7 linked regions of the Homo sapiens genome follow. The protein of the gene in region 3 purifies or fractionates together with the protein of the main gene of each other region. This does not show direct contact. Each region holds a gene or a part of one and is shown on either strand. Other genes may lie near its edges. The genes, in order: RGPD5, PAK6, ESRP1, GPATCH8, MSI2, THUMPD3 and RGPD8.

What was found.
Region 1: the proteins of ESRP1 (region 3) and RGPD5 purify together in Homo sapiens (affinity purification with mass spectrometry, with the first as the bait; 2 studies listed by BioGRID). This does not show direct contact.
Region 2: the proteins of ESRP1 (region 3) and PAK6 purify together in Homo sapiens (affinity purification with mass spectrometry, with the first as the bait; one large-scale study listed by BioGRID). This does not show direct contact.
Region 4: the proteins of ESRP1 (region 3) and GPATCH8 purify together in Homo sapiens (affinity purification with mass spectrometry; 2 studies listed by BioGRID and IntAct, with this or other methods). This does not show direct contact.
Region 5: the proteins of ESRP1 (region 3) and MSI2 purify together in Homo sapiens (co-immunoprecipitation; one large-scale study listed by IntAct). This does not show direct contact.
Region 6: the proteins of ESRP1 (region 3) and THUMPD3 purify together in Homo sapiens (affinity purification with mass spectrometry; 2 studies listed by BioGRID and IntAct, with this or other methods). This does not show direct contact.
Region 7: the proteins of ESRP1 (region 3) and RGPD8 purify together in Homo sapiens (co-immunoprecipitation; 3 studies listed by BioGRID and IntAct, with this or other methods). This does not show direct contact.

Annotation. Positions count from the first base shown.
Region 1 is NC_000002.12:109,800,451-109,804,849, reverse strand, and holds part of RGPD5 (RANBP2-like and GRIP domain-containing protein 5/6), read right to left. Parts: intron 3,068-4,399; coding exon 3,000-3,067; intron 1,419-2,999; coding exon 1,307-1,418; intron 872-1,306; coding exon 719-871; intron 1-718.
Region 2 is NC_000015.10:40,241,568-40,245,966, forward strand, and holds part of PAK6 (serine/threonine-protein kinase PAK 6), read left to right. Parts: intron 1-4,399. UniProt on the Homo sapiens protein: Serine/threonine protein kinase that plays a role in the regulation of gene transcription. The kinase activity is induced by various effectors including AR or MAP2K6/MAPKK6.
Region 3 is NC_000008.11:94,643,502-94,647,900, reverse strand, and holds part of ESRP1 (epithelial splicing regulatory protein 1), read right to left. Parts: intron 1,734-4,399; coding exon 1,619-1,733; intron 1-1,618. UniProt on the Homo sapiens protein: mRNA splicing factor that regulates the formation of epithelial cell-specific isoforms. Specifically regulates the expression of FGFR2-IIIb, an epithelial cell-specific isoform of FGFR2.
Region 4 is NC_000017.11:44,423,060-44,427,458, reverse strand, and holds part of GPATCH8 (G patch domain-containing protein 8), read left to right. Parts: intron 1-2,966; coding exon 2,967-3,110; intron 3,111-4,399.
Region 5 is NC_000017.11:57,258,872-57,263,270, reverse strand, and holds part of MSI2 (RNA-binding protein Musashi homolog 2), read right to left. Parts: intron 1,121-4,399; coding exon 1,079-1,120; intron 1-1,078.
Region 6 is NC_000003.12:9,372,538-9,376,936, reverse strand, and holds part of THUMPD3 (tRNA (guanine(6)-N(2))-methyltransferase THUMP3), read right to left. Parts: intron 2,422-4,399; coding exon 2,291-2,421; intron 1-2,290. UniProt on the Homo sapiens protein: Catalytic subunit of the THUMPD3-TRM112 methyltransferase complex, that specifically mediates the S-adenosyl-L-methionine-dependent N(2)-methylation of guanosine nucleotide at position 6 (m2G6) in tRNAs.
Region 7 is NC_000002.12:112,394,943-112,399,341, reverse strand, and holds part of RGPD8 (RANBP2-like and GRIP domain-containing protein 8), read left to right. Parts: coding exon 1-119; intron 120-1,063; coding exon 1,064-1,243; intron 1,244-1,336; coding exon 1,337-1,420; intron 1,421-4,399.

The sequences.
Region 1 (4,399 bases), on a different chromosome or scaffold from region 3:
TTTCTATCAGAAACATATATGATGGGGGTAGGAGGAAGCTAAAGGCAAATATACATTTATAATTTTATATTGTACACACACAATAAAGTATACATTAATATATAAAACATTACAATATACATTTTAAATGTTTGCCAAACATATTTGTGTAGATTTCTCCAGAACAGTTACTTAGTAAACTATATTTTACTCTATAAAGAATATCAGGACCAGTCAACACACTAGCAAGAACTTCCTACCATTTTTAGTAATTACGTCTTATATACTACAGAAACCACCTTTTATCTTTTGCTTGAAAACCTTACTATCTCAAAATACAATCCCTTCTACTTTCAGACAATAGTTATCAGAAAACTCTTCTTTAAAATATCCCTAAATTGTCATCCTGTAGGTAATTTTCACTTAATGAAGCAAAAATTGTATATCAGACAGAACTTAATGTAAATCTTAGCTCTACTTAGTTTACAGCTACTAAACTGTAAAATCCCTAAAATATTAATTATTCCAGAAGGGTAAATGAGATGTCACTTATAAAGTATAACAATGCCTAATAAGACAGTAGATGCTCAGAAAGGTTTTAATACACTTTTTAAAAGAAAAATGTTAAAGGAAACACAAACACCTGAGCTTAAGGTTTGCTATTGAAAAGTAATTTAAACTCCAAATATTAGAAATGGTTATGTCTTAAGTTTTCTCCCTTTATGTTTTGTTTGTTTACCTTTAGTTTATAAATTGCAGGACTTCCTGGGAAAAGTTTTGCTGCTCTTTCGACCCAGTATTTTGCTCTTCCATCAGTAACATCATTTTTACAAAGCAATTCTGCAATCTTCAACACAAGATCTTTTTGTGTTGGGTTTAATTCCACTGAACGCTAATATCAGAAAAGAAATTAAAGATTAGTAAATAAATTGTATGTATGTATGTAGGAGTATATATACTTATACATAAAGGTTAAAAATTATCACTCCAACCCTTAAAAAATTCTACTTCTAGAGAAAACATGTTACTTTAAAGGTGTTAAAATAAAAGTGTCTTGGAATTTTCTAGAAATGAATCAAATAAAAATTATATTTGTGTCATTTGAATGCAAAAAACACAAAAGAACACCATTTCTGACCGTGTTAGACTTACAATTTATAGGTGTTAAACAATTCTAAATCTGTTCCAAGCTGTATCACATAATTGTACTATGATACCAATGCCTGTTTTATGATATTCATAAAATATATTTGACTTACTTATATAAATTTCTCTGGGCATCATGTGTTTGGCTACGCAAAGGCTATATTTGAATCTTATAACTTACCCTGTAACATTCAACGGCTTTCTCTGTGTTTTCTTCCAATTCATAAAGAAGACCCAGAAATCTGTGAGCTTTGGGATCCCTCTCTTGCACATTAATGTAAGTACATATGTATCTGTTTTTTAAAAGTAATACAAAAGTAAATTAAACTTAGAACTGTACTTTTAAATGCTAACCGAAGAATACATCTTAAACCAAAGCAACCACTAAACTCGTTTATATTGTTACTCAAAACTACCACTATTTATGCAGATAACTCAAAAGTATTCATAGAAAGAAATGGGTAATACTTAAAAACACGTACATAGAGTTGACCACATACTCATTTTACCATTAAATGTCACATTTACCAAATTTTTCTCCAGTGTTAACCACACATAAGAAATGAACATATAGATTGCTTTTTCTTCCTGATCACATTTTAATAAAGCACTAACAGTTTTGCCAATAAATTAGAAGTGATTATAATAAACATTTTTAAAGTTATCATAATGCAAAATACTAAACAGCAACAATTTCCCAAACAACAAAGGGAAATACATTTACCCTTTAAGCAAGAAAGTAATTTCTAACAGTACTATATCCAGCTAAAATCGAACAGAAGAAAAATTACTAATTACAGTACCAAATACAGGAAATTTCCATTTCTCAAATCAAGTAACAACTAAAATAAGTAAATATCCTCTAGGTTCCTTGACAGTATTACGATCAGAGAAATTAGGCCAGACCTAAACTAAGGGATTAAAGTCTCACAGTAAAAAGGTACAAGAGTTAACAGTCACAGTGCTGCTAGTTACATAATTTATGTACCACCATTTTCCTTTCTTACCAGCATTTCCATCTTCCTTTGGATGCCTTTAAAAGCCTGCCTCCCAGCTGGGAGCAGTAACACACACCTGTAGTCCCAACACTATGGGAGGCCGAGGCAGGCAGACTGCTGTGCTCAGAAGTTCAAGACTAGCCTGGGCAACATAGTGACACCTGTCTCTACCAAAAAATGCAAACCTTAGCCAGGTCCACGTGGTGGTGCGCATCTGTATCCCCAGCTACTTGGGGCGCTGAGGTGGGAAGATCGCTTGAGCCCAGAAGGCAGAGGTTACAGTGAGCAAAGATGGAGCCAGCTGCTGCACTCCAGCCGGAGCAAGAGAGACAGATACTGCCTAAAAAAAAAAAAAAAGCCTGCCTCCCTCTTAATTTCCTGCTTTAATCCACTCCCAGCCAGGAAATCAGAATCACCAAGCTTCTCATCCCTAGGATAGAGCCTTAGAGCATCACATATTGTGTCAGTTAAAGATCTTTTATACAAGCTATTCTCCTGCCTTACAATTACAGTTTAATTTTTTATTCATTGCTATTTTCCATCTGATTAAGGTATCAGATATCTAACCAAAAACAAATTAAGATATAGGCATGGTCCTCTTTTACTCCAACAGAAGACAATTTTTAGAAAAAGTGTTTTAAGCCAAACAATTTCTTGCCCTTGGTATAAAGCAGCAGCATGCAGAAAACACTAATTACAGTTTCAATCTCAATGGAATCTAGGCTGGTCCTTAGCATCAGTCTGAGTGATAAATCCCTTATTCCAGAATACACTTAGGAAGAACTACTAAGGACATATTTTTACCTATTTCAAAGAAGAAAATGAGAAAAGGCATTGATTTTAAAAAAAAGAATACATGTTACGGTTTGTACTTACTTTTTAGCAAGATCATATTCTTTAGCTTCATAATACAGCTTTGCAAAATAGAATCCTTTCATTGACTTCTAAAAAAAAATTAAAAGTTGTTTTACGTTTCATACAGAAATATTTTCCAACATTTTTTCAAAAGTAGTTAAAGCCTGACAAATGCATAATTCCATGTTTTATAATTTCCTACCACAAAACAAAAAATAGAGCTGGGTGCAGCAGCTCATGCCTGTAATCCCAGCACTTTGGGAGGCCGAAGTGGGCGGATCACCTGAGGTCAGGAGTTTGAGACCAGCCTGGCTAACATGGTGAAACCCCGTCTCTACAAAAATAGAAAAATTAGCCAGGCATGATGGCGGGTGCCTGTAATCCCAGCTACTCAGGAGGCTAAGGCACAAAAATCAGTTGAACCCAGGAGGTGGAGGTTGCAGTGAGCCAGAGGTTGCAGTCAGCTGAGATCGTGCCATTGCACTCCAGCCTGGGCGACAGAGACTCCATCTCCCAAACATCATCATCATCATCATCATCATCATCATCATCATCATCATAAATAAGCTGGGTGCAGTTGGTCACACCTTTAATTCTATTTAATTCTAGCACTTTCAGAGACCAAGGTGGGAGGCTAGCTTTGAGGCCAAGAGTTTGAAACCAGCCTGTGCAACACAACAAGATCCTGTCTCCAGGGGGAAAAAAATAGCCAGGCATAGTGGAGCATGCCTGTGTTCCTAGCTACTCAGGAGGCCAAGGAAGGAGAATCACTTGAGCCCAGGAGGTTGACACTGCCGTGAGTTATGACTGTAACACTGCACTCCAGCCTGGGTGACACAGGGAGATCCTCTCTCTAAATAATAAATACATAACATACAAAAAATAAATTCAAGAAAGCAAGACAAGCAGACAACAGAAGTTAAGAATTTTCATCAGCCTTGGAAATCTTGGAAACCCTGTGGTACCACTCTCTCACTTAACAAACAAAAGAAACCAGCTTTCTTTGGGGAGGAAAGGTATTCCAGAAATCTCTTCTCCTACCATGTGTAAGCCTCTATGGGAAAGAATAAGTAAGTACTTAGGATCTATTAAGGCACTGAGGATTCCCGGGTCCATGTACTGTTCTCTCTACAGATCAGATCAGTATTTTACAGTCAAGGAGTCAAAAAGGCAGAAATAAATATTGAATTCTTCAAGTAATAAACGAGGTCCACAGCCTGGATCCTTGGTTACATAAACTCCAAAGTCCAAAATGCTGATGCACACCAGGCTGGGTGCGGTGGCTCACATCTGTAATCCCAGCACTTTCGGAGACTGAGGCGGGTGGATCACTTGAAGCCAAGAGTTCGAGACCAGCCTGGCCAACATACAGAAACCTCCTTTCTACTAAAAATACAAAAATTAGCTGGGCATGGTGGCAC
Region 2 (4,399 bases), on a different chromosome or scaffold from region 3:
TAGTGACAGAGCGCCTGGTCAGGGAAGGGTCGGCACCAGAGGCAAGCCCTTCTGGGAGCAGCTGATTTGGATGGAAGCTCTGTGCACCTGAGAGGGGGAGTGTGGGGACTGCACGGCCTCTCCAGTGCCCCGAGGACAAACTGATGCTTTGTGAGTGCTCTGGGCCCTCCCGGACTTGCCAGACACAGGGAGGGTGCAGTGGGTGGGGTCTCCAGCCAAGGAAAGCCCGCTCTGTGCACAACTCCTAAGGATGACCAAAAAGTCCCCTGCCCTGGAGGAGCACATGTGCTCAGAGTCAGGAGGAACCCATAAGTGTCTCTCATGCCAGTGAATTCCCACACCTGGCTCCTGGATGAGGAGAATGACCCAGCTGTGGGGGTATCTCATGCTGCCTCACAAAAGGTGACTCTGTGCCTAGGAGTCTTCCATGCATGCAGAGCTGAGCAGGGGCTGCTGCCCAGTTGGGGTCAGAGGGGCGGAGGCTGTCGAGCACTAGGTAGACAGCAGGCCAGCAGCGGGCAGCAGGTTGGGCCAGGAGGGAGCAGAGAGTAGGGGCCAGGGCAGGCTGAGCAGGAAAGGAAAAGGCTGCCTGGGGTCCTGAGGGCTCAGGGAGGACTCCAGACAGCTGGCCTTCTTATGCCAGCCCGCTTCTGTGGGAGAGGCCCTCTGCGTAGGTGACTGGGCAGGGAAGAGGCTAAGACACTGAAAGATTGAATTCCTCACCCAAATGGCCCAGAGATGCCCACCGCACACAGTGTCCTGGGTGCAGAAGGCAGGAAGGACTCATGGGAGGCTGTCCTGTGGACTGAAGCAGAAAGTCCTTCCCGTAAGATGCGCTCGTCGCCCTGAGCAGGAAGGCCCAGGCTGCGGAAGCAGTGCCTGAGACCTGAGCAGCAGGAAGGACACCAGTAAAGCTCATCAGGAGGCATCTGGCCGCCTGCACCTACCGGGCCTCAAGGAGAGAGCTTATTTCTGGGAGCCTCCTTGGTAGAAAGAGGTGGACTAGCCAGCAGGTTGGGGAGGAGCATTGCAAATGGAAGCTTCTGAGGGCAGAATGAGTTCTGAACTTGCTGAAGCCAAGGCTGGCCCTCCTGCCCAGGGCGAGCAGTCTGCCTGGGCCTGGGAAGTTGTCCCCTTCTGAGGAGGTGCCCTCCACCCCACCAGAGCTCAGCCCTAGGGGCCAGGAAGGGCTAAAGCGAGAAGAGTGAGATGTGAGATAAAGGGGACCGTGTCTCTTCCTGGGAGGGTGTGGGGTCCAGGCAGCACCTTGTTCTGGCGCACAGGCTGCCAAGCAGATGACAGCCATGGCCTGACTACTAGGTGCAAGCACTGGTGGCAGGAAGAGGGGGTGGACAAAGCAGGACAGAGCTCTTGCCCTGGGGATGCTCATAGCCCTGCAGCAGAGCAGTGGAAAGGAAAGCTGAGCTGAGCGTGGGGCCAACCGCGCCAGAAACAAGCGGAGCCACAAAGCCACCATCAGCCCCCAGGTGGCTTCGTCCTTTTGCCAACTCTGGGTCCAACTCATCGCTGAAGTTGGCAGCCATGACCCATCCAGCCCAGATAATTTATAAATTTACACCAATACTGGGCAACGGTTCTTAACATAGAACTTTATAAAGATGGACAAAAAAGATAAGTTGAGAATGACAAACAAAGGAAGAAGCAGCTTCTATCTGCAGTTGCAGGAGGAGGTGAAGGCTCGGGGAGATAGACCAGGGCGGGAAGAGGCAGGATGGTGGTTGGTTAACATGAAGTCAGCAGCATGAGCCTCAGGCCCGGTGCTGCCTCTTCCTGGTGACTCGGGCAAGTTACTTCATGTCTCTGGGTCTCAATTTCCTCTCCTGTCCAACAGAGATAATTATAGTACCTATGAGTTAGGGTTGTTGAGAGGATTAAATAAGATAATAAGTGAATGCTCTGAATGGCATGACTGGCACATACGTACATGTTCAGCAAGAGATAACTATTATCACCGTGATGATAACTGGTGTCAGAGGAACAAAGTGCCAGGAGAGACCATACCTTGTTCGGGGGAATCAGGAAAGGCTTCACGGAGGAGGTGACTTTGAAAGAACCCTCCTCTGAGGAGAAACAAAAGCTCTCAGAATGCCCAGGAAAGCTGGGAAGAAACAATAATGCCAGGTCTATTTTTTTCCCAAATAGCATATTGTTTGTCCACTGAGGCTTTCTAAGGAATAACTTGAGACTCCTCTTTCTGGGGTCTAGACTTGGAGGTCTTGAGGACTTGAAGTGGGCTGCCCCTAGTGAAGGGATCGAGAGCCGGGCTGTGGCCCTGGCCCTACTCCTTTTGGGGACTGGAAGCTTTTTTCACATGCTGGTCCTAACTGCATGAGGAACTGTGTTCTGCTGAGCCCCATCTAAAGCATACACTTGGTGATGTGGCAGGCAGAGGGGCCAGACAAGGCCACGGCAGGCTCCTGGATCACTCTGGCAAGTAGCTTAGAAATGCCTAGTAATCGTGGGCAAGGTGCAGTGGCTCACGCCTGTAATCCCAGCACTTTGGGAGGCTGAGGTAGGCAGATCACAAGATCAAGAGATCCAGACCATCCTGGCCAACATGGTGAACCCCGTCTCTACTAAAAAATACAAAAAATTAGCTGGACGTGGTGGCGCGTGCCTGTAGTCCCAGCTACCCGGGAGGCTGAGGCAGGGGAATCGCTTGAACCCAGGAGGCGGAGGTTGTAGTGAGCTGGGATCGTGCCACTGCACTCCAGCCTGGCCACAGAGCAAGACTCTGTCTCAAAAAAAAAAAAAAAAGGCCAGTAATCGTGAGGTTCCATCTCAGAGACTTTTGTTTTCTCTTTTTTTCTTTTTATTTTTTTTTTTGAGACAGAGTTTCGCTCTTGTTGCCCAGGCTGGAGTGCAGTGGCACGATCTTGGCTCTCTGCAACCTCCGCCTCCCTGGTTCAAGCGATTCTCCTGCCTCAGCCTCCCAAGTAGGTGGGATTACAAGCACCCACCACCATGCCCGGCTGATTTTTGTATTTTTAGTAGAGATGGGGTTTCACTATGTTGGCCAGGCTAGTCTCGAACTCCTGACCTCAGGTGATCCGCCGACCTCAGCCTCCCAAAGTGCTGGGATTACAGATGTGAGCCACCACACCCAGCCTGCTTTTTCTACAAAGGATTATCTGTTCTATGAATTTAGGAAAGGTAATCCTAAAGCTTATTCACCTAAGAAAAACAAGGCAACCCCAGAGCATGACAGGCTTTCTTGGGCTGGGGGAACTCACATGTGAAAAAACAGGTTCCCTCATAACTACATGAGAGGCCGCAACTGCCTCAGCCCCAGCAAAGGGACACCTCTGCTGGCCAGCATTTCCTACAAAACCTCATCACGACACATCAGGCAGGGCAGAGACCCAAGTATTCACATAGGGCCAGTGATGACTTTTTTTGACACCTGTGGATTCTCCGTGGCAACCTATTCCCCAAAAGTGCTGCCTCGGTCAGCCAATCCCAGTGTCTCTCTGCCTAGGCAACAATCTCTTGTGCTCTGGTCTGCCCACAGCCTCCATGCACTCAGCTCTTTGGGCCTCTTGCTAAGGGGCTGGAAGCAGAGCTGTGTCCTTCAGGCTGTCAAGGACCTGGTGAGGGATCCTCTGGGTGTCCAGGGAAGCAGGTTCAGAAAGCTCAGTTCAGCTGGTGCTGTATTTTGATCTCTGATCCCAGTGCAGCGGGGACCAGCCTACTCAACTCAGTGCAGATAGCAACAAACCAGTCACCTTGCCCAAGACCTCCTGCTGCCTGCCTGCCTGCCTGGTGACCAGGACTCCTAAAGGCTGCAGCAGCAGCAGCAGAGTTAAAACTTTAAAACCGGGAGGACTGGTTCTGTGGCTCAGCTTCCTGGCCTGGAGAGGCTCTAGCCTCCATTTTCTTTCTTTCAGCTTATGGAATTGTGCAAGAAAGCACAGAGGGTGGAGGGAGCGAGGGGACCAGTTATGCCACAGCCTCCTGCACCACCAGAGCACAGTCTCAGATCAGCAAAGAGGAGCTCTGAGGAGGAAAAGGCTGCCCCAGGAAAGAGCTGGCCATCTCAGATTGCTGTAGCACATTCAAGCCAAAGGGAGTCCCCGGAGGATGTTTCGTCCAGCCCCCATAATTTTAGAGCGGGAAACAGAGGTCCAGAGAAGGAAAGTGGGTCCTGAGGCCACACAGCTAACTAATGGCAGAGTCAGTTTCCAGCCCAGGGATCCCCAGCTGCCTGCCCAGCACTCTTGCTACCCAGGCTGAACCCCCACCCCCGTGCTACCAAGGGGCCCATGCAGGAGCAGGCAGCAGCCACTGGGTAACTTGATGGCTTGGGAGAGGCGGCCTGGCCTGACACATTGGGAGGCTGGGCAGGTCCCCGCTTTGCTCCTATTGTGCTATTTGGGTG
Region 3 (4,399 bases):
CAAAGTGCTGGTATTACAGACATAAGCCACCATGTCCAGCCAGAAGTTGTCTTTTTCTAAATTAAGATAGCTTATTAGATTTTTCCTCCACTGCCTTCTAATTTTTCAGTAGGTACTCTGGTTCTCTATTTTGTGGAAGACCAACTATCCACATTAAAAAGTTTAATATATACTTAAGAACTGAATTGTGTCCTCCACCTCCCCCAAAGTCCTATGTTGAAGCCCAACCCCCAATGTAACTATCTGGAGAGAGGGTCTTTAGAAGTTAAGTTTAAATGATGGTCAAAGGGTGGAGGGGTCTAATTAGATAGGGCAGTGACCTTGTAAGAAGATAACTCCTCCTGCTATCCCCCCAGAAAAGGTGGCTGGCTACCTGCAAGCCAGGAAGAGCCATCACCAGAACCTGACCATGCTGACACCCTGATCTTGGACATCCCAGCCTCCAGAACTGTGAGAAAGTAAATTTCTTTTGTTTAAGCTCCGTGGTCTATGGTATTTGTTATGGAAGCTTGAGCTGTCTAATACAACATTCAACCCAACAGAAAAACCAGTGAGAATTTTTCTGGTGTACTAACCTTTTTAACAAAATTCTTGTAAGAATTCTGTCACAATGAGCTTATTCCACCCTCTTCCCAACACTACTGGTCATGCTAAGCCAAAATTCCAGCTAACTGACTCCAAGAAGAAGGCAAATGAAAACGGATTTGACCTGTTTACAAGTAGTTATGAAATATATGCGAGCAAACTTCAATCAGGAAAAAAAATCGTGAAGTAACACAAAAACCAGGTTTTAATTCCTGAAAATGAATGAGAAAGTTTGGGAATAAGCATCTACAACCCACAAGCTACTGAAGTTAACTTAGTTTTAACTTCATGATGACTCTCACAGTGGCTTTTGGGAAGCCACTCAAGGTAACAATTACTCAACTTTACATCTGATATATTAGCACACGCCTGCTTATTAGTTAGCATTTGAAAGACTTAATGAATGTAAGATGACGGGTCATTCATGATTATAGATTTGTAATTATAAAATTACTTTTACAATATATCATGCATCAAATATATTATTTTGGTAACTAAAGAATGTGGGGGACAATCCAGACCCCATTTTATCATCTCCAAAGATGGCTTATTATAATCAGCATAATCTTGTATTTGAAAAACTCAGGGGAGGCTAAAAGCGGGACCAGTGAACAGCAGTTTGTAAAGGGGATATATCCACCAATTAAAAAAATTATTGACTTCATTCCAAAGAAGCCAAAATAAACCCTAAAATCACAGTAACCAAGAAAAAGTGGCCTTAGAATCTGCACTAAAGTCTTCATGTTCTTTCTGCAGCACACACACACATTACACAGCTGAAACTGAATCCTATTCTACATGTGATCACCCCACCAAAAAATCCATCTCCAAATCCGTCCAACCATCTGATTAATTATAACCACTTTCAAAGATGTCTATAATTGTATTTTAGTTTCTCAGCAGAGTAAACAAATTTTGGATAGGCCAATTTTATCCATATGCTGACAAAATTTAAAATGTTTGAAAGTTTCTTGAATTACCTTTTCTGGAACTATCTTTTCAAATGATTCTTGAGTAATGATTTAAAGGATACACTCTGTCATTGTGGCAACGTCCAGTTTGTCAATATCAGGTGAACCAGGGCAACATTTCTTGAATTCTTTTCGAAGATCAAAAAAGGAATAGAAGCATTCAGGTAATAGTACATTCTGAGGAAGGACAAGGTAGATAATGTTAACTAGGTGAATTTGGTTCAATGTTTCTCTCACAATTAGGAACCTAAAAATTGAATATAAGCATATTTTACAATGGAAAAATTTAAAATTTAATGTAAAAGTAGATTTATTTTTAAAAGTTGGTCCTGTTTCTATATTAGATCCTATGTACAAGTCTCATGAAAAAAATTCCTCTTGTTTTAAGGCAGTGGATTACAATGTTTGTGCTCCAGTATGCATTCCATTCAAAACAATTCTGAAGCTGTGATACATTTGTGCTGTTATACTTCATATTTTCTGGCTGTTAATACTAATTTTTTCCAGCCATAACCATTTTAGAACATCTGTATTTTCAGGCAGCACTAGCAGCCCTTTCAGTTTTCACACAGGTGTGGGATTAGATTGTAAAACTGGGTAGTTCTAACTATTGGGTTCTAATAATGCATATTTTCAGTAATAAGTGAGATTAGAATAGTAAATTCCTGATTAACTGAAAAGGCTTATTTCTGTGCCAAATAATAGTCCCACATTAGTCTTCTTGAACAATATTGTAGCTGTACCTGTGAACTCAAATTAGACTTCAAACACAAACAAAAACAAACTCACAAATCCCAAAGGCAAAGGAGAAATGGTTACCTGCTGTTCTTAGCTATTAGGACCACTACCGTGGCTACGAAGCAAAGCTCAACTGTCTGGACAAATATTACACTATTGTTTCCTTTGTTTTTTTTTTTCTTAACAAAATAACCCAGCATTGGATAACTTTTAAAGATAATCCTTTTAAAAACTCAATTCAGATTTTTCTTAAAATTTTGAAATTGTGTTAATTTGCTGGGAATTTTTACCCATTTTTACATTAGAACATCAAGGAAATTAAGACTTTTAAATGTTAAATGTTCATGCAAAATATCTCCTCTCCAAGTTCCTTCTATTGGATTTTACTAGATGTGACCTGTTCATGCTGTATTTTGAAATCAGTATTGCTGCATCATGGTCACAGCTTTTAAAAAAGTTAACAACCAAAAGAACCATGAAACCTCCCTATTACCTACAAAAATGCTCATTTAAAAGCTATTTGTAAGGACAATAACTCACATGTTCAACAATAATCAGTTTAAATTGTTGTGTCCATTTAAAATACTGAGTATTTTATTTAGTGGTTATAACAATGTTGATGTTCTATTAAATAATGTAGGCTAAAAGGCTTACGCCGTATGAATGCTCTTTGTAAATAATGCTTGTCTACAGAAATCTAGAAGAATATATCCAAATACATTCATGTTAGAGAAAAACATTTTAATATATTGAGTGGCAGGATTATTTCATGTTTTGCCATTTTCCCTTTTCTTTAACGAATATACAGAATTACTTTCACTATAACATTAATTGTTTTAGTTTCTGTATTTAATCAAAATTCTAATAGCTGTGGCTGAGGAAAAAGTCTTAATTTTTCTCCAGATGTTTTCCTACACCCAAAGCACTCCACCTAAATAATGAAAACAGCTATTTTCCTCTGGCCCAACAGGGAAAAGATTAAGTCTTGTCCTTCCGTCATGTGAGTTTGGGAGTAAAAAAGTAATCCTTACATATTACTATTTCTGGTAAGGATGTAGCGACTAGTCTAGCATTTAATTTTTTAAAAAAATTCTTCCCCTTTTGTCAAATAATTACTAAGACTCGTATAAAAGGAATGATTTTCTGAAGACATAACAACTTGAGTTACTCCTTCAAACTTTTTGAATTGTCATAATATATTAAACGAAATAAAATCTGCACTTACTTGCCTGGGTCGTCATTTGTCAGTCTACATCTTTCATTGCAAGCCTTGCCTTATACAGGTACCTAAATATATTCTACTTCCATCTTTTCAAGCTCGGTGCCTGCCTACCACAATAAAAAGTTACAGCTCAAACTAATTTAAGTTGTTAAGAGACAGTGTATTAACAATGATTGGCTACACTGGGTGGGTTGTCTCTGCTGTTCCTTTTCCCACAGCCCCTCAGTATTTATCCCAGGGAGAGAAATCACATTTTACCTATAGTAAGACTGTATTTCTCTCACTCTGTAATCCTCTCTCTGTCAGAAAAATGAGCAAAGGTAAAAGATGAGGCTGACCCTTTTGTTTTGATGCAAGAATGTTTTGAACATTGACTTAAAATCAGACAAAGTGAAGAGTGCTACGATTGTGGTTTCACTAGATATAAGGTTATCTTATTTAAGTAGCCTTTTTAATGAAATGATTAGAAATACAACTTTAAATGTTTAATTCTTTTTTCCTTCCTTTCTAGGATATAGCATTTCCAACACAAATGAGGATATTATGACATACTAAAGAATAGTTCTTTCCTCTCTTTGTAGTTATTTTAAATGTCAAAAATTCACACTCTGTATTAGCTTCGGAAAAGGGAAGTGTCATGCATCTTGAAAATTGGACGTAAACAAAGAGACTATTTTAAGTCACCAAAGAGTATCTTTGTATATACATAACACCAAATTTACCATTTTAATAATTTTTAAGAGTATGGTTCAGTAAAACATTAAGTACATTAACATATTTTGCAACCATAAACACCATCCATTTCCAGAGCTTTTTCATCTTCCCAAACTGAAATTCTGTACTCATTAAATAACTCCCTATATGCATCTTTTTAAGAACAGAG
Region 4 (4,399 bases), on a different chromosome or scaffold from region 3:
TGGTTTTAAAGCAGTCTGCCAGTTCTTTTGCTGAGTTTTCTTCTATTATTTCTGAATTTTGTACCCTATTAACTTACTTAAAAGTGGTTGTGCAAACAGTGTTTCTTGAATTATTTATATATATATGTATTTTATATAAACATAAGCCTATAAAAATAATTCACATCCAGCCTTGGGCACCATGATGAAACCCTGTCTCTACGAAAAATACAAAAATTAGCCAGGCATAGTGGCATGCCCCTGTGGTCCTAGCAACTCAGAAGGCCGAGGTGGGAGGATTAATTGAGCCCAGGAGGTCGATGCTACAGTGAACTGTAATTGCACTACTGCACTCCAGTCTGGCCAATAGAGCAAGACGCTGTCTCAAAAAAAAAAAATAGTAATATTAATTTAGGCAATTACATATATATCAACTTATGTATATGTGTGTATATATGTACACATACATATAACTCCATATATACGTGTATGTATTCCCTATATTTGAAAGATACATATAAAATCCTAAGTTAATTCTTTCCTTAGATATCTTATAGTATTTATTGTACCACTGTCTTCTGGAGTTGAGAGAGAGTGTGAGAGAGAGAGAGAGAGAGAGAGAGAGAGAGAGTGTGTGTGTGTGTTGTTGAAGAGATCAAAGGCTGGCCTGATCTTCCCCTTCTTGATTGTTTTTGCCTAGCTGCTGAAAGGAGTCTGTCTTTAAGATTCAATAACTTTACTACACTATTGATTGTCACTGATTGTTCTGGGACCATTTTCATTGTCACACTATGTGCCCTTTCTTGTCCTGTGTAGTTGAGTGGATCTTCCTTTAGTGAGCATGTGCTGATAGCCTTTTTTTTTTTTTTTTTTTTTGAGACAAGGTCTCACTCTGTCACCCAGGCTGGAGTGCAGTGGCGCAATCTTGGCTTACTGCAGCCTCTGCGTCCCAGGCTCAAGTGGTCCTCCCACCTCAGCCTTTCAAGTAGCTGGGACCAAAGGCAAGTGACACCATGCTCAGCTAATGTTTTGTATTTTTGGTAGAGCCGGAGTTTCACTGTGTTACCCAGGCTGGTCTTGAACTCCTGAGCTCAAGCCATCTGCCTGCCTCGGCCTCCCAAAGTGCTGGGATTACAGGCGTGAGCCACCGCACCTGGCCTCAGCCTTTTCTTAGATCTGCCGCAATTGGGCAGAACTTTTTGCTTTTCTCTATGTGCATTCTTTGTACTGCAAATGTTTCCTCATCCACCCTAACCCAAGTTCATCCCTTTGTTCTTCCCAGATCTCAGAAATTCTTGATGAGTGCAAGAGATGTAGGTATATTCATTTCAGAGGATCCTTTTATGTACAGGATATATGTTTTGCCATTTTCTGAAATTGCCACCTTTGGCTTTTTTGATATTGCTTAGCTTTGCCTTGTCTGGCTTCTACTACATTTCCCTCATTCAGGTTCTATAAAGAGCTTAACTTTCCTTCTGTGTGTTTTTCATACTCCAGATCATATCTGTTGCCCAGTTCTTCTGAAAATGCAGTTGGTGGGGTTTTTTTAATTCATAATTTTGTTTTTATGATACCCAAGAAGAAAATCAAAGCTGTTTTCCTATACTGCTGTATTCATACCAGGAACTCTAGTTTTGTTGCTTAAATTTGCAGCCAGGTGTGGGGGCTGACACCTGCAATGTCATCACTTTGGGAGTCCAAGGTGGGAGGATCACTTGAGCCCAGGAGTTCATGACCAGCTTTGGCAGCATAGTGAGACCTCATCTCTACAAAAAATACAAAAGTTAGCTAGGTTTGCTGGTACACGCCTATAGTCCAAGATACTTGGGAGGCCGAGGTGGGAAGATTGCTTGAGCCCAGGAGGTGAAGACTGCAGTGAGCCATGAACTGCACTGTACTCCAGCCTGGGCAAAAAAGCCACAAGTCGTTTAATAGCCAAACAACATGAAACTGTCCGGGACTGTCAAAGAAAATTATTGTGAAGGATTAGATAGGGCAAAAATAACAATGTGCTACACATACTCACTTTTCAGTTTTAATAAGTCTGTCCAAATTAGTTCAGTACTGCCACTCCAGAAAATAATAACCTTTTCTTGTTTACTGATTAAGTAGCTCTTATGGGAGATGATAGAGCTGCTTTGAAACTGTAGATATAGTCTTTGAGATAAGACTTATCTTTTTTAGGTCAGTCTGCTAGAAGGAGTTGCTCATTATGAAAGTAATGCATCTACCCTGCTCTAAAAGTCAAGCAAGTAGTCACTTAGCATTCCTGTCCCTTTCTCATCCTTCTGTGCGACATTAGCAAATGAATATACTCAACTTGCTTTGAGGTATCTTTTAATTGTTTTCTCTTTTTTCCTTTTTGAGATGTCTTTTGATGTCTAGTTTTTAAGTGAAACTGCTGAGGCAAATTGGACTGCCTTTGAGTCAGTCCCACAGTTTTTTGTTGTTGTTGTTTTTCTCCAACCTCCTCTCACATGTAAGAGTCCCACAGTTTTCAATCTCGCTGAGACCAGCAGATAACACATATCTGTGGGTTGGCTTTCCAAGCAGTGCAGCTTATATGTAGAATGACCATAGAATATTTAACTCCATCATTGGCTACAGACTCAGGTAATGCTTTTTTCCTTCGTGTCTGAAAACTAGACTATTAATACAGGTTGTATATCCCTTATCCAAAATGCTTGAGACCAAAGGTGTTTCAGATTTCAGATTTTTTGGGGGTTTTGGAATATTTGCATTATACTTATCAGTTGAGCATCCTTAGTCCTTTTAAACATTTGTTTATTTGAAGACAATTGTTAGTATGACGACACACAGATTACCCACCAAAGTACCACTTGTGTTTCATCCAGCTTTTACTGGTACCACTAAATATTATGAAAAGCCCTTTTTTGTCTTCTCAGATAGACTGTTTTCTCTATAACATTCACTTAAAGTTTTACCAAGTTCATTTTTTGTTTCTTTGTATTTCATGGGTCTTGAAGGATTATGTTGACAAAGAGAAGGCAATTGCCAAAGCCTTGGAAGACCTCAGAGCCAACTTTTATTGTGAACTGTGTGATAAGCAATATCAGAAACATCAGGAATTTGATAACCATATCAACTCCTATGATCATGCACACAAGCAGGTGAGTTGTAGTTACTTGCTAACAGAAGAAGGTACCTATCTATTGTTACAACAATTGGATTTTATGAGTATACCCCCCAAAACTTGGTGTCTATGATTTCTTGTGTCTGCCAATCTTTATCTGCAGTCATCCAACACACTTTGTTTTTTCAGTGGCAGAAATCCTGACATAGACACCACCTCCAGCCCACACTCCCACATATACACTATTTGACAAATTGTGTTTTGTAAATCTTATATAATGTTTTTGCCTTTTATTGATTTCTAAGTTTTTATTTAATTTTGTAATTCAGCTGAGGGTCACTGGGAGCTTTGTTTCCATTTCTGCTCTTAACGCGTTAAACTTTGAAGAGTTATTCAGCAGACTGTTATTTTCAAGTTCCCTACATAAGATTTCATGCTTTATTGGCTACCATTTTCTATTATTAAGTCATTTTGCTATTCAATATACCTTGGAAGTTAGATAAATTTTGAGAAGGAAAATAAAATTAGATGCTATCTTAACTTTAACAAAAAACTCTGTTGCTGCATGTTGAAGAGCTGATAAATGAATTACACTTTGCAGTCTTTGCCCCCTCCCCCGCCGCCACCCCATCATTTTAGAGGAGAAAATTGTACCTAACTAGTTACTGATATACAGAAGATGGCAATAATCCCCCTGGGAGAGTTTAGAAGGGAAAAATAAATTGTTACACCTATAGGACAGTTCTGGCTTGTTAAAGAATTTCAAGCCATTTGATCTTGGGTGACTTTAACATAACTTACTAGGTTTTTGGGGGGTACAATAGTTGTATTTGTTAAACTTGTAAATTTATGAGCATTGGAATGATGTCTCCTAAGCTGGACTTGTTGAACTAAGATTTTTTTTTAGCCTTCATCTTCCACCAACCATAAGATTTCAGTGCACAGGTAAAAGGCAATCTTTGACCAAGTTTTATTCTTACTAGAACTGGAAGAATTTGTAAGCTGGTTGTGGTATTACACTTTTTTGGAACAGTCTCCCCCATTTAAATATACCTAACCAATTTAAGATTCTTCCACTAATGGACTTGTATTCAAGACAGCTTTTCAACTTACTACATACCTTTGGACATTCTTTTCTGTTTTTTTGAGACGGAGTTTTGCTCTTTCGCCCAAGCTGGAGTGCAGTGGTGGATCTCAGCTCACTGCAACCTCCACCTTCTGGTTTCAAGTGATTCTCCTGCCTCAGCCTCCTGAGTAGCTGGGATTACAGGTGCCTGCCACCATGCCCAGCTAATTTTTGTATTTTTAGTAGAGATGGGGCGAACT
Region 5 (4,399 bases), on a different chromosome or scaffold from region 3:
GAAAGAAGGAGGGAAGGAAGGAATCAATCAATCAAGTGGTATGCCCCAGACCTGAAATTCTCAAAGTACCATCACAATCACCAACTTTTTCTATACTAATGTGCAAAACCATTCCTCTCTTTACACGATTAAAAGGTTCCACTTCTGGGAGACTGTGCATAAAGAAATAAACTGAATTTGCTAAAGCCACAACCTTTTCCGACTTAGAAGCTTCAACTTTTCCCCTTTCCCTAAAAGAATGACAAATCCCGAAGATACATAAAAAGCATTTCTTCCAGTGCTACATAAGGAAGAAAAATAGTAACTAAAAAGTGTAAATGTAACATGTAAGCCATAAGCCCTTCCAATTTAACCTTAGGCTTCAAGCAACTGTGTTCTCATAGCCACACCTGGCAAGCTCAGTGAAAACTATGTTAACGACACACTTCTAAAAAAGTGAAGCCCTATCTCAATTCTTTAAGCAAGTCTTGTAGTGCCACTCCTACAAGGTTACAACATTTTCAGGACTTCTCCACCCAGGCACCAGCACTTGCACAAATAAGAAGCACTGTTGGTTTCAAGTATGCCCTGACTTATCCAACCAACCTAAAACCAAGATATCCACTGCTTGCCCTCCCAGATTTAAGGCTTTATGGGCCTAAGAAGTTGTCTTTTCCAAGAAAGGATCAGCTGTTTAGTCAAACTCTACTCCTCTGCATTAACTCCAAGTTGTAAAGCCTCAAAGAGTACCCTCCGAAAGAGTCACAAGGAAATGTTCGACTTTTCCTGATATGATATTGGAAATGCTTAAAAAACAAATAGAATCCTTGCAAAAAATACTGCAGTCGATGGAAACACGTCCTCCCACTAAGCATCAGACTTGTCCCTGCCCCCAGGTGGATGTTCAGAAGCCACCTTGGGATGGCTAACTTAGAGACGCATGGTTATCTCACAGGACTACTTGCCCAGCCTGTCCTGATACCCCGAAGGAACAGTGAATACCAGGCTTCAACAGTTCATGGCCAATGCTGTTTGAAATTTGAAATTCTTGGCAATCATCTCTGAGTGCTAAAATCCTACTGTTTATTCTCCTACTTACCTTGGGTTGCGCTCGACGAGGAAATGCAACTTTGGGGTCAATCTGGGAAAAAAAATAGAAAAGCAGGAGTCAATAAAGTACTTTAAGGAAAAAATATATGATTAATCACCTAATTATTAATCACTCATTTCTCAGGCTTATAATCCAGCTTTTAGTAACTTCTCAGGCAACTCAAAAGTTTCTTAAACTTTGATCTCAACTTTAACCATCCCTCCAACAGATCAGGTAACTAACATAGCTAGCTAGCCTTTCTGAAATGACCCACCATGCATTTCAGTGTGTGATGCTCTTAATAAACCAGATCTCATGTAATTCTTATTTAGGCAAGGGCTTCTTCTTCCAGACACTGAATATTAAATGGTATCTACATCTAATTTGCTATGCGTGGCTGGGAGAAAAGATGGGAGCATCATTATCATTGGGAAAAAAATCATAACCTGAAAATTAAATGTAAGTATTCTCTAGCAGTAGGTAATTGGATGGTATTTCTTCTCCCTGATGATAACTAAACAACACAGGAGGGAAAGGAGCTTCCAAAAATTTTTTAAATCAACAACATCCAAAAACTCCCCACAGACATCCAACACAGTGCTCTGCTTGAGTTAATTAATTCATTTTAGCAAAAGTAAAGTTACCCAGGATTAACCAAAAAGATCATCTGTTCTGTAGCTATACCTCAAAAGATAAAAAATAATTTTTTGAAGTAAAGAAAATGAAGCATGTGAGCTAAATCCACCTGGATTTTAAAAACAACAGGGAGTAAAAATCTATAAGCAACCTAAACCCAAATTAGAAAAGAAATCCCATCATGGGGAGGGCACCAAAAAAAAAAAAAAGTTACTGAATACAAGAAGTAGTCAGAATCTAGTGCAACAAGTAGGGAATTCCCCTACCCCAACCTCAATCCGAGTGGAAAAACATCCTCCAGTCCAAATCACACACTTGCAAAACGCATGATGCTCAATCAGGGTCTAGCTGTACAGCTCAGAACAGTTCTCCTGGAAGCATGTGAATCTAACAGGCTGATGTGAGGGAGGAAAAAAGTGACTGCACAGATAAAAAGAGGAGGAAAGAAATGTGAAAATATTCCCGTTGTCGGTTTTCATTGAATTTCTAAATGTCACAAATCTTTGGGTAAAAATGTAACACAGATAGTATAAACATGCTACCAGTTATTTATTTCCAGGCTTTGGCTTTCATATTAAAATGTTTTCCTTTTAAAAAGTAAATCTGAGCTTTGTTTTCACTTCTGCCATGAGAAGGAGCAGGGGAGAAAAGAGTAATGCTGTGGAGGAAAGTAGGGAGGTGGGGGTGGGGAGTGGGAAGCACGGAGGATAGTTCATTTGTTCCCTGACTTACATCACCTAGGGTCCCAGCCAGAAAGACATATGAGGATTTCCTGCTGTTATTACGGGGGCTTAAAGACCTAATAAAAGTCTGCATTGCATTCCCTACCTTTAAACATCACCTGAGAAATGAGAGATTACTTTTCAAAAACTAAAATAGACAAAAATCTCTGATCTAGAAAACTACCCTTTCATAAAGATTAACATTACTGCATCTACAGGTGTGTCCAGCACTGACTAGCGCTTGTCTACAAGAGAAATACAACAGGTGTGGATTTTCCATTCTGTTGACGTACGTAAGACAGAGGTGTCTTTTTATAAATACTCCCCAGAGGGTGTTTTTTTTAGTTGGCCGGCACACAATTGCAATCAGAAATCACCTTGTTTATGGGGTAACAGGTGTGGGGTATGTTGAGGGAGGTGCCAGGAGCTGGAAGAAGTAAGGTGCAATGAAGAAAGTGAAGTACTAAAGAAAATTTAAATCACAAAACGAAAAAGCCAATTCAGAACTCCTGGATGGTGTGTGGCCGTATCAGAGCATTATATCATGATCGAAGTTCCTCAGTGTGCAAAGTTTACACGCTGAGATCTCTGAAGGAGAGGAAGGGTCAAGTTAAGCATGGCAAATCCCAACCTTTTGCACATCCCTGTCAACTATTTTTTAAAAAACAAACAAAAAAGAAAACTACCAAAAATTAAAACATTAGTTAGTTAGGTACAGCTCTACTTACTGTATCTACAAGTCCTCTAGGAAAAGACTAGGGTACTATTTTGGATGTGAATGGCCGTTACCTAAACAAAGCTTTTAAGGTAACAGTAAACAAGATCCTCGTTTCCATGTCAATAAACCAACCGCTTCTGCCTCCTGCACTGAACGTTGAAACAAAGTCAAAAGCTAGGTTACACTAAATAATAGTGACCAAAACATGTCTATAAACAATCAGAGAGGGAAACTGCAGGCTTTGCACCTGATACAGAGGAATATGACCCACCAGCCACCACAGAAACCAAATACTGTTTCTCCCACCCAGGTAGCAAGAGGGGGTGGATGATAAATTCCCAAATTTGCCTTGAAAAGATTTTCCTCTTTAATTTCACTAGCTTTTTGAAATGGCTAGCCACGAAATCAAGGAGAGAAAAATTTTTCAGACATCTGTTATCATCCTACAAATCATTTCTGAAATTAAATTATCTAAAAGTACAAAAGGCTGGGCTGCATGCAAGCTATGACAAGTCCAGGACAATTAATAAAGCAACTAAGAGTGTAGGTGGGTTTCTTTCTTAGGAGAAGGCACGCATTCCTGATCTCTTTGATCAGAGAAAGAGGGTGAATTTGCAAAATCAATTCAAGTGCACCGAAGGTTGCCAGGTTTCTTTATTTGCTTTCCTTCTCTTCCATTCAATGTTAAAGCCAAAAGGGGCTTGAAAGATCACCTTGGTCCACTTATTTTACAGAAGAGGAAATTGAGACCCAGAGGTAGGGAATGTCTTGCTCACTTTCATAAGAGGCGGATGGAAGTAGAGCCCCATTTCTGGCCTTGTCCCACTACCCCATCACAGAGGAGTGAAGTTCCATGCAACCCAGCACTACAGCCCAATGTCATCTTAAGGCCTCTGTTTGGGGCAGATATATATTAATAAAAACCGTGGGGAAACTCTGGTAGACATAAAGGGAAGGGAGGAGAGGCAGGAAGCCCACACAGGGGCTAAATAAAACACTGCACACTCCCCCTCCCATTAAATGTATTGTTATATACAGACACTCTTTCTTCCCTTCCCCTTCTGACCTCTGCCTGGAGACTCTTCCCCCTTCTACTCTGGATTTTTAAAACTTGTGATGTATAAAAGTACCCATACTCAAATGAAAGGATCTGAGAAAGAAAAGGAAGGAAAAAAAAATCACTTTGAAACCCCCAGGCCTTATCAGCCTTAGATTTCATGCCATCTGGAGTCACCCCAGTGGATGCCCAGCTCA
Region 6 (4,399 bases), on a different chromosome or scaffold from region 3:
TATCTCACAGAATCCTCAGTAAGGACCCTGTTAGATAATTATCATTATTCTCATTTTAAAGGTAAGCTGATGCAAGGAAACATGAAGTTACCTGCCCAGGGACACAAAACTAGTAGGTAACAGATTCAAGATTAGAGGCATTACTGTTAGTGGCTTAACTGTTATCCTCTTTATGAAGCATCCCACCCTGAAACAGGTCAGTAGGTTTCTTCCCTTCTCTTGTTCTTCTAATCTTTTCATGTGCTGGTGTGGGACTTATCGCATGTATGATAACTATTTATCTCCCTCACAAGACAGATTCTTGGGGGTTAATAGTGGGTTCTTATTGTAACATTGGTCCTGCTCTATCTCCTTGCTCCTACTCCTCAACACATGGCAATAGAATCCTTGGCAACCCTCTTGAGGGGGTAAGCACCCTGTACTCCAAGCCATTCCTGATGGTCAGGGGTGAATATCTGACCAAAACAATGTCCATCAGATCCTCTCTTCCAGGAATTTGGAACAAAGAGCTAAAAGCCCTAGGCAGTGTGGGTTGGTCGTTTGGAATTGGAAATACATAAATTTAGATGAGAAAGCATGTAGATGAGAAGAGACAAGAGTCCACAGGCTCTAAGGGGAGATAAAAATGGCTGCCTACATTTCTGGTGGTTTTCCAAGATGTGGTTCCTACCCTTCTTGAGAACCAACATTCAGTTTTTCTGTAGAATCCCCAAGATTTCTCTTTATCTTTCCAATAAACCCCTCTCTGGCACAATTATCACTTTTTTATCCTAAACTTGATTACTTAGGTTTTAAATATTTGCACCCAAAATAACACCCTCTCTGTATCCCTGGTTTCTACCATATGCCTGGCAGTAGATAATGCATATTTGTTAAATTAATGAAGACTAGAAGATTTTCCTTTATCAAATGGGCCCAATTTTCTATTATCGTCATTGAATTAATATGTTAGGAAGATAAAAGATTGGAAGAGAAGGAATACAGTCGTGTACTGCATGACAATCTTCCAATCAATGGTGGACCAAATATATGAATGCAGTAATTATAATACCATATTTTGCCCTATCCTTTCTATGTTTAGATACACAAATACCACTGCGTTACAACTGACTACAATATTCAGTACAATAACATGCTGTACAGGTTTGTAGCCTAGGAGCAATAGGAGATACCACATAGCCCAGGTGTGTAGTAGGCTACACCATCTAGATTTGTGTAGGTACACTCCATGAGGTTCGCACAATGATGAAATTGCGTGATGACACATTTTTCAGAATGTATCCCTGTCATTAAGTGATGCATGACTGGACTTAACTACCAGGACATACCAGGCACTGTATATAATAGGTATTTTGCATATGCTTCAGCATTTAATCCTCACTAATAATCCTTTAAGTCTCACATCAAATCCATTTTGCCATCTGGAAAACAGAAGCTTTAGAGAAAATAAACATTTTCAAGTGGTGGAAAGAAGCACCCAATAAAAGAGAGAAGGGCAAAGGAGAAGGAAAGATAGGTCGTGTACTCTGAAAAGCAAAAAATTCTAGGATGATTCCTGAGTTGCTGTGAGTATAAAGCTTAAAAATATAAGTAAAAGCTCTTTCTGTTCATTTACACGTTATACACATAAAAATCTCTGCTTTCATCTTTTTCACTGCACAGAAATGAAACAGCAAAATTTACTCTTATCTCCCAACACACATATCCTTGCTAAACAGAAATGTGGTAACCTCATTCAAGAGGCAGGTGAAAACTATTACTCTCATTTTAAAATCAAGAAAACCGGGCGCGGTGGCTTACACCTGTAATCCCAGCACTTTGGGAGGCCGAGGCGGGTGGATCACCTGAGGTCAGGTATTTGAGACCAGCCTCGCCAACATAGTGAAATGTCGTCTCTATTAAAAAAATACAAAAATTATCTGGGCGTGGTGGCAGGCACCTGTAATCCCAGCTATTCGGCTGAGACAGGAGAATCGCTTGAACCCGGGAGGCAGAGGTTACAGTGAGCTGAGATCTCGCCACTGCAGTCCAGTCTGGGCGACAGAGTGAGACTTTGTCTCAAAAAAAGAAATAAAGAAAACTGAGCCACCTATTAAGCAGTATTTTCAGATCACAAGGAGTCAATATTGGATAGAAGGGAAAGAAATAGATCATTAGCTTTCCATTCTATTCTTTATCCACTCTATTCCAACACAGTACCTCAAACACACATACACACAAATCAGTATTTTGAAGGGAACATTCAAACCAAGGTGCCACTTTAAGCTGGATGGCAAACTCATTTTCTTACCTGAGCATCCCATAGGCAAGAGTTGATCTAAGAGTTGTAGGTCCAAAATGTGTTATATTTCTTCGGTGGAGACTCTCTTCAGTCAATGCAATGCCCACAATGACTTCATTATCATGGATGTTCAAAAGAACCTATAGCAAAGTGGAACAAGACAAAATAGTTTTAGGATTGTTCAAACTGCGCTTAGTAATAAGACTTTTCTGACCTGGGCCGGTTCACCCCTCCTTAGGCAACCTGTTGGTCCCCTACTCCTGGGAGGTCACCATATTGATGCCAAACTTAGTGCAGACACCTGATTGGCATAGCGCACCACAGCCCAGAACTGTCTAAAAAGTTAAGACATTTAAAAAATACATATTAAAAAACCTCTAAGCCTTCAAAATATGTTTGTGTTATAAAAATTGGGGTGAAATCTGGTTGTAGCCAATAAACATAGTGAATTAAAAGAAAATAATAGATATTAAAATGAACGAAAAAAACTATATACTATATGATTTCATTTATATGAAGTTCAAAAATTGGCAAAACGAATTTTTGGTGGTAGCAGTCAGATTAGTGATTGCCTTGAGTGGGTACTGACTGGGAAAGGGCAAGGGGAGCCCGAGGTACTGGAAATAGTTTGTATCTCTATCTGGATGCTGTTTACACATCGTGTATATAAGTAAAAACTTACTGAAAACTTAAGATTTGTGTACTTAAGGGGTGCAAAGTGTATCTCAACAAAAAAGTTTTAAAAATTGGTAAAGTCTCAAATAAAAAGTCTTATTACACTGAGTGCAGTGGCACAGGCCCACAGTCCCAGCTACTCGGGAGGCTGAGGTGGGAGGACAGCCTGAGCCTGGGAGGTCAAGGCTTTAGTGAGCCATGATTGCACCACTGCACTCCAGTCTGGGTGATACAGCGAGACCCTGTCTCAAAAGTGAACTAAACTAAACCAAAATGTTCCCCAATCTTTCACTGAAAGACTTCCTGAGCTTAACCACAGCAGAAGCACAGCTGATACTCATACAGCACTTCCTAATGCAAAGCACTATTCTACACATTTTACATACATGGCCTCATCTCATATTCACATCCCCTAAGCTAGGTATTATTCCCTTTATAAATGAGGATACTGAGGCACAAAGACAGCTCCTCAGGAATTCCCTTTTTGAGACAGGGTCTCACTCTGTCGCCCAGGATTGAGTGCAGTGGCATGATCACAGATCACTGTGGCCTGGACTTCCTGGGCTCAAGCAATCTCTTACTTCAGCCTCCCAAGTACCTGGGACTATAGGTGTCTGTCATCATACTCAGCTAATTTTTTTTTTATTTTTTGTAGAGACAGGGTCTCCCTATGTCGCCTAGGCTGGTCTAGAACTCCTGGCCTGAAACAATCCTCCAATCTTGACCTCCCAAAGTGCTGGGATTACAGGTGTGTGTCACCACACCCAGCCTCCTCTGGGATTTAAACCAATGCAGCACGGCTCCAGAAACTCCTCTGAATCACCTTGCTAACTTTTAGACATCACTGTTCTGGTTAACCTATTCATTTTATTTTTTAAAATATTTATTTTATTTTTAGTGGAGACAGGGTCTCACTATTTTGCCCAGGCTGGTCTCAAATTCTTGGGCTCAAGCGATCTGCCTGCCAAGGCCTCCCAAAGTACTGGAATTACAGGTGTGAGCCACGTATTCATTTGCAAGGCAGTGTATGAGGAAAAAAAGGAATGGGGAATTAGACTCCTGATTTGACATGCACAAAAAAGTTAGAATCAGTGACTTGCCCCAGATTCAAGTGTCCCAAAAGCAACGGAAATTGACTCTTTGGTAAATATATCAGCTGCTAGAGATGTTTTAAGGTGTCAGAGACTTAAATACTTTAGTTCCTATGGTTCACATGTCAATCACCCAGATAAAAGAGGATTAAGACCAAGGAAAGTAAATATACTAAAATGAGGTACCTGGCTTTGGAAATCTAGCAGAATTTAAGAAAGAGGAGAGCTGACTCTAGGATGAGTATTAGCAATGATGTCCTGGTTTGAGAAGGTCAGGGTTTGTTTAAAAAATGCACTTTTTTTTTTTTTGGAGATGGAGTCTTGCTCTGTCACCCACGCTGAAGTGCAGTGG
Region 7 (4,399 bases), on a different chromosome or scaffold from region 3:
AAAATGATGCCCTTTCTCCTGAAGAACAAGAAGAATGCAGAAATTATCTGACAAAGACCAGGGACTACCTAATAAAGATTATAGATGACGGTGATTCAAATCTTTCAGTGGTCAAGAAAGTAAGTAGCAGGTTGTTGTATGTACGTTCTTACTGATAACCCACTGGTCAGTGTTTTTGCGTTGGTCTTATATTTTGGTAATTTCAAAAATACTCAGTAATATGTTGTTATTAATGCACAGAAGGGATGCGTGTGTCTAAATGCTTAGATTTGCTTGCTTTGTCTTAGGTTTGGTGTGTCTTTTTAAACTTGGGAATCTAGGTATATGCTCTTAAAAAGTACTTCTTGGGGAATTAGAAAAGATTTCTAAGATAAGACATTGATTTTGTTATCTTAGCAGTGTAATCAAAACAAATATTATAACCTCAGGACTAATTCTTAATGAACTTTGCTGAAATTGAAAGTTGTTGCTGACAACTTAAGAGCATTTCTTCTCATCGTCATCAGCCATTATGAACGCCCTTGTTTTCTTGCTGTCAGCTGTTTGAGATTGTCATGATGATGTTAAATTATGTTCAGTCTTCTGAGTGTTTTGTTGATTAATTTGTGTTACTACTCTTTTATTAGGATTTATGTTGTCTGGTGTATTGTAGCATCTGTATTTCTGTCACCATTGAAAATCAGTTAGAAAACATCAGTAACTTATTTTGTTCACTTGGAAAAGCTTTCCAAGTTAACATTCCTCTACAATTATCATGGTTAACAGAAGTAATAGAAAGAGCATGGACTTTAGAATCAGAAGATGTTAGACTGTACAACACTTTTCTGTGTTCCTGAAGAAAAAAATAGAATAAAGACAAAAAAATAAAAATAATAATACAAAACAACAGAAAAACAAAGAAAAAAGATAATTAAAAAACACTTTCACGTGTATTATTATTTAAAGTGTAAAGTGCTTATTAAAGTGACAAAAATGTAAATAAGATAAAATATATCATTTTAGAGTTTTTACTTTTGGAATTTTTTGCAAATGAAAGCCCTTAATTAATGTCTTTTATTTTTAGTTGCCTGTGCCCCTGGAGTCTGTAAAACAGATGCTTAATTCAGTCATGCAGGAACTCGAAGACTATAGTGAAGGAGGTCCTCTCTATAAAAATGGTTCTTTGCGAAATGCAGATTCAGAAATAAAACATTCTACACCGTCTCCTACCAAATATTCACTATCACCAAGTAAAAGTTACAAGGTAAACAGGAAAGAATGGAATCATTTCATTGTGAAATTGTTTCTGTTCTAAGTGTTTTAAATGCTGTTTTGTTATTTTTATTTTTTTTTTCAGTATTCTCCCGAAACACCACCTCGATGGACAGAAGATCGGAATTCTTTACTGAATATGATTTGCCAACAAGTAGAGGCCATTAAGGTAAGTCACTTAATTTCTCTAGCTGTACTTTTTATTCCAAGATTCCTTCCCTGGCTACTCTCTCACTTTTTTTCTGAAGCTGGTCAGAATGTCCCCTTGCCATCCAAATAGTATGGCAAGGGGACATTTTGGTCTTTTTTTTTTTTTTTTAAGACAAGGGTCTTGTTCTGTTGTGCAGGCTGGAGTACAGTGGTATGATCACAGCTTACTGCGGCTTCAACCTCCTAGCTCAAGAGAGCCTCTTGGCTCAGCCTGCCACGAAGCCAGGACTACAGACAGTCACATGCCACCAGGCCCAGCTAATTGTTGTATTTTTTGTAGAGATGGGATTTTGCCATGTTGCCCAGGGTGGCCTTGAACTCCTGGCTCAAACAATCCTCCTGCTTCAGCCTCCCAAAGTGCTGGGATTGCAGGTGTGAGCCACTGTGCCCAGCCTACATACCTCGGTCTTGACCCTTTACCATATTTTGTTTTGTTTTGTTTTGAGATGGAGTCTCACTCTGTTGCCCAGTCTGGAGTGCAATGGTGTGATCTTGGCTCACTGCAACCTCCACCTCCCAGGTTCAAGTGACTCTCCTGCCTCAGCCTCCCGAGTAGCTGGGATTACAGGCACCCGCCACCAGGCCCAGCTAATTTTTGTATTTTTAGTAGACACAGAGTTTCACCATGTTGGCCAGGCTGGTTTTGAACTTCTGACCTCAGGTGATCTGCCCACCTTGGCCTCCCAAAGTGCTGGGATTACAGGTGTAAACCACCGCACCCAGCCCTTTACCATATTTTTGAAAGTACTTTATGTGTCTCTCTCCTCATCTTCCACAAAATTTGAGACCTTCAAAGGTAGAAACTGTTTTATTTAAAATATAAGAGTTCCTGACACAGAGAAGGTTCCCGAGTGATTGAAGTGCTACAATGTACTAATCATACTCTGGTCTATGAGTTCATTCCCAGATTAGCTGTGGATTACATGTGTTTCAAATGTATAGCTAGGAATCGAAAAGTGGTCTGAGCTTCAAAAAGTCTTACTATATTTTAATACTTCCATATGAATTTGACTTAATTATGTAAGGAAATAGTTATGTATATATATCTTATTTTAACAATAGGGTTCAAAGGAGCTTGACTTTTTTGGAATTGGAAATAAAAGTAGGTTCTTTCATGTTTATCAAGCAAGAACTAAATTACTCATACTGCTAAAGTTACATCAAGGATATGCTGATGTGTGGCGATTATTACAGTGTGATCAGCAGCATTTGCAAATTAAGAGAATACTATTTGGTGGGGAAGACATTTTTGAATTTGCACAAAAATTTTGAATGTTAATTCTGTGTAGTCGTGGCCTATGACAATTACATACAATTTTGACTTAACATACAGGTTTCAGGCTCCCAACATTGTATTCTGTGGAAGTATAGTGGAGCACTAGTCCATGAGCTTGAAAAGCTTGGTACTAGTACTGACTCTGCCATTAATTAATGATCTTGGGCCAGTCACTTCCTTTGTGACTGTTTGGCTTCTTATCTTTAAAATGAGAGAATTATTGAAGCCAGTTCTCATCACACTGAATGTTAAAAATTACAGTTACAGCAGTGATTGCAAATTCAAAGCTCTGGTGCGGATACCAACAGTGACTATAAAGTTTTCTAGGTGATTCCACTAGTTTCTTATTTCTTGGATGTGTATGTGTAGCATCTGGACTAGGCACTGTAGATGGATGAATGGGGGAAATTTTATTTAGCTTGAAAATTGAGATAGTTTTGGACCTCATGGTTAGGTCTTTCTGGGAAATTTTTAATTGAAACACTTGTAGAAACAGAAAGCAGACATGCTAGATCTGTCCCTGACCTCACTTGTTAGAACTGATCGGATTCCTGGGCTGATACAGAGAAGTTTGAAACTTTTCAAAATTTACCTGTTTTCTGATACCACTACAATTTCTTTGGAAAAAGAATTTCCTGTTAAGTGTCTGTTTTGTAAGGGGACATTTTGTAGGTTCTAGGGTGTTGGGTATGGTGCTGTCATTTAGTTTTCTTCAGCAGAGATCAGGTAGCCACATAGCTACACTAGACGGCATTGGATCTATCTGCCATCTTGTCAAGGCAGCAGAGTTGTGTTAAGAAAACATTTTTGGAGTCAGATGTGTTTCAAATTCCAGCTGTTATTCCCTGCATCCGTTTCTCTCATTTTAAGATAGGAGCTAATATTGTTTACCTAACAGTGTAGATGGTGTAAAAATTAAGAGTTTAAGTGCATTGGACGTATTATTATATACATAATAAATTCTCTGCAGCTACTACTTTTTTCCCTTTCCTGGTGGAGCATTTGAACATCACCTTGAGAATTAGTTGTATTTTGTTTGAACACAGGGTTAAGTGAAAAGCTAATTTGGGGAGGTGATTTGGAATGTCAGGTAGTCCAGGTTGCAGTGTAGAAAGAACACACTGAAAGGATGGTCAGTGTAATGTTAGAGGACTGTGAAAGTTGGGGAAAGAAGTTTAGTTTGTAGGTACTTGTTTTTTTGAGCAGGGAATTGTCTTGGCTGGAGGTGAACGTCAGAAAGGTTAATGTAGGCAAGTGTAGAATGGAAATGAAGGTGTGATCATTTAGGAGGTTATTTGTTTAGGTGAGAGAGTTAATGAATTAGGTTTTGTATTAACGAATGAAAATGGGAGCAGATAAATTTTTAACAAATTAAGAATCATATTTTAAAATCAGCACCAGGTACCTAGAACTCTTTGGCAAATAGAAACTTTCAAAAGATATAATCAGGTCCGGGCGTGGTGGGTCACACCTATAATCCCAGCACTTTGGGAGGCTGAGGTGGTGGATCACTTGAGGTCAGGAGTTCAAGACTAGCCTGGCAAACATGGTGAAACCCCATCTCTACTATTATACCAAAAATTAGCCGGGCGTGCTGGCTGACGCCTGTAATCCCAGCTACTCGGGAGGCTGAGGTGGGAGAATTGCTTGAGCCCAGGAGGT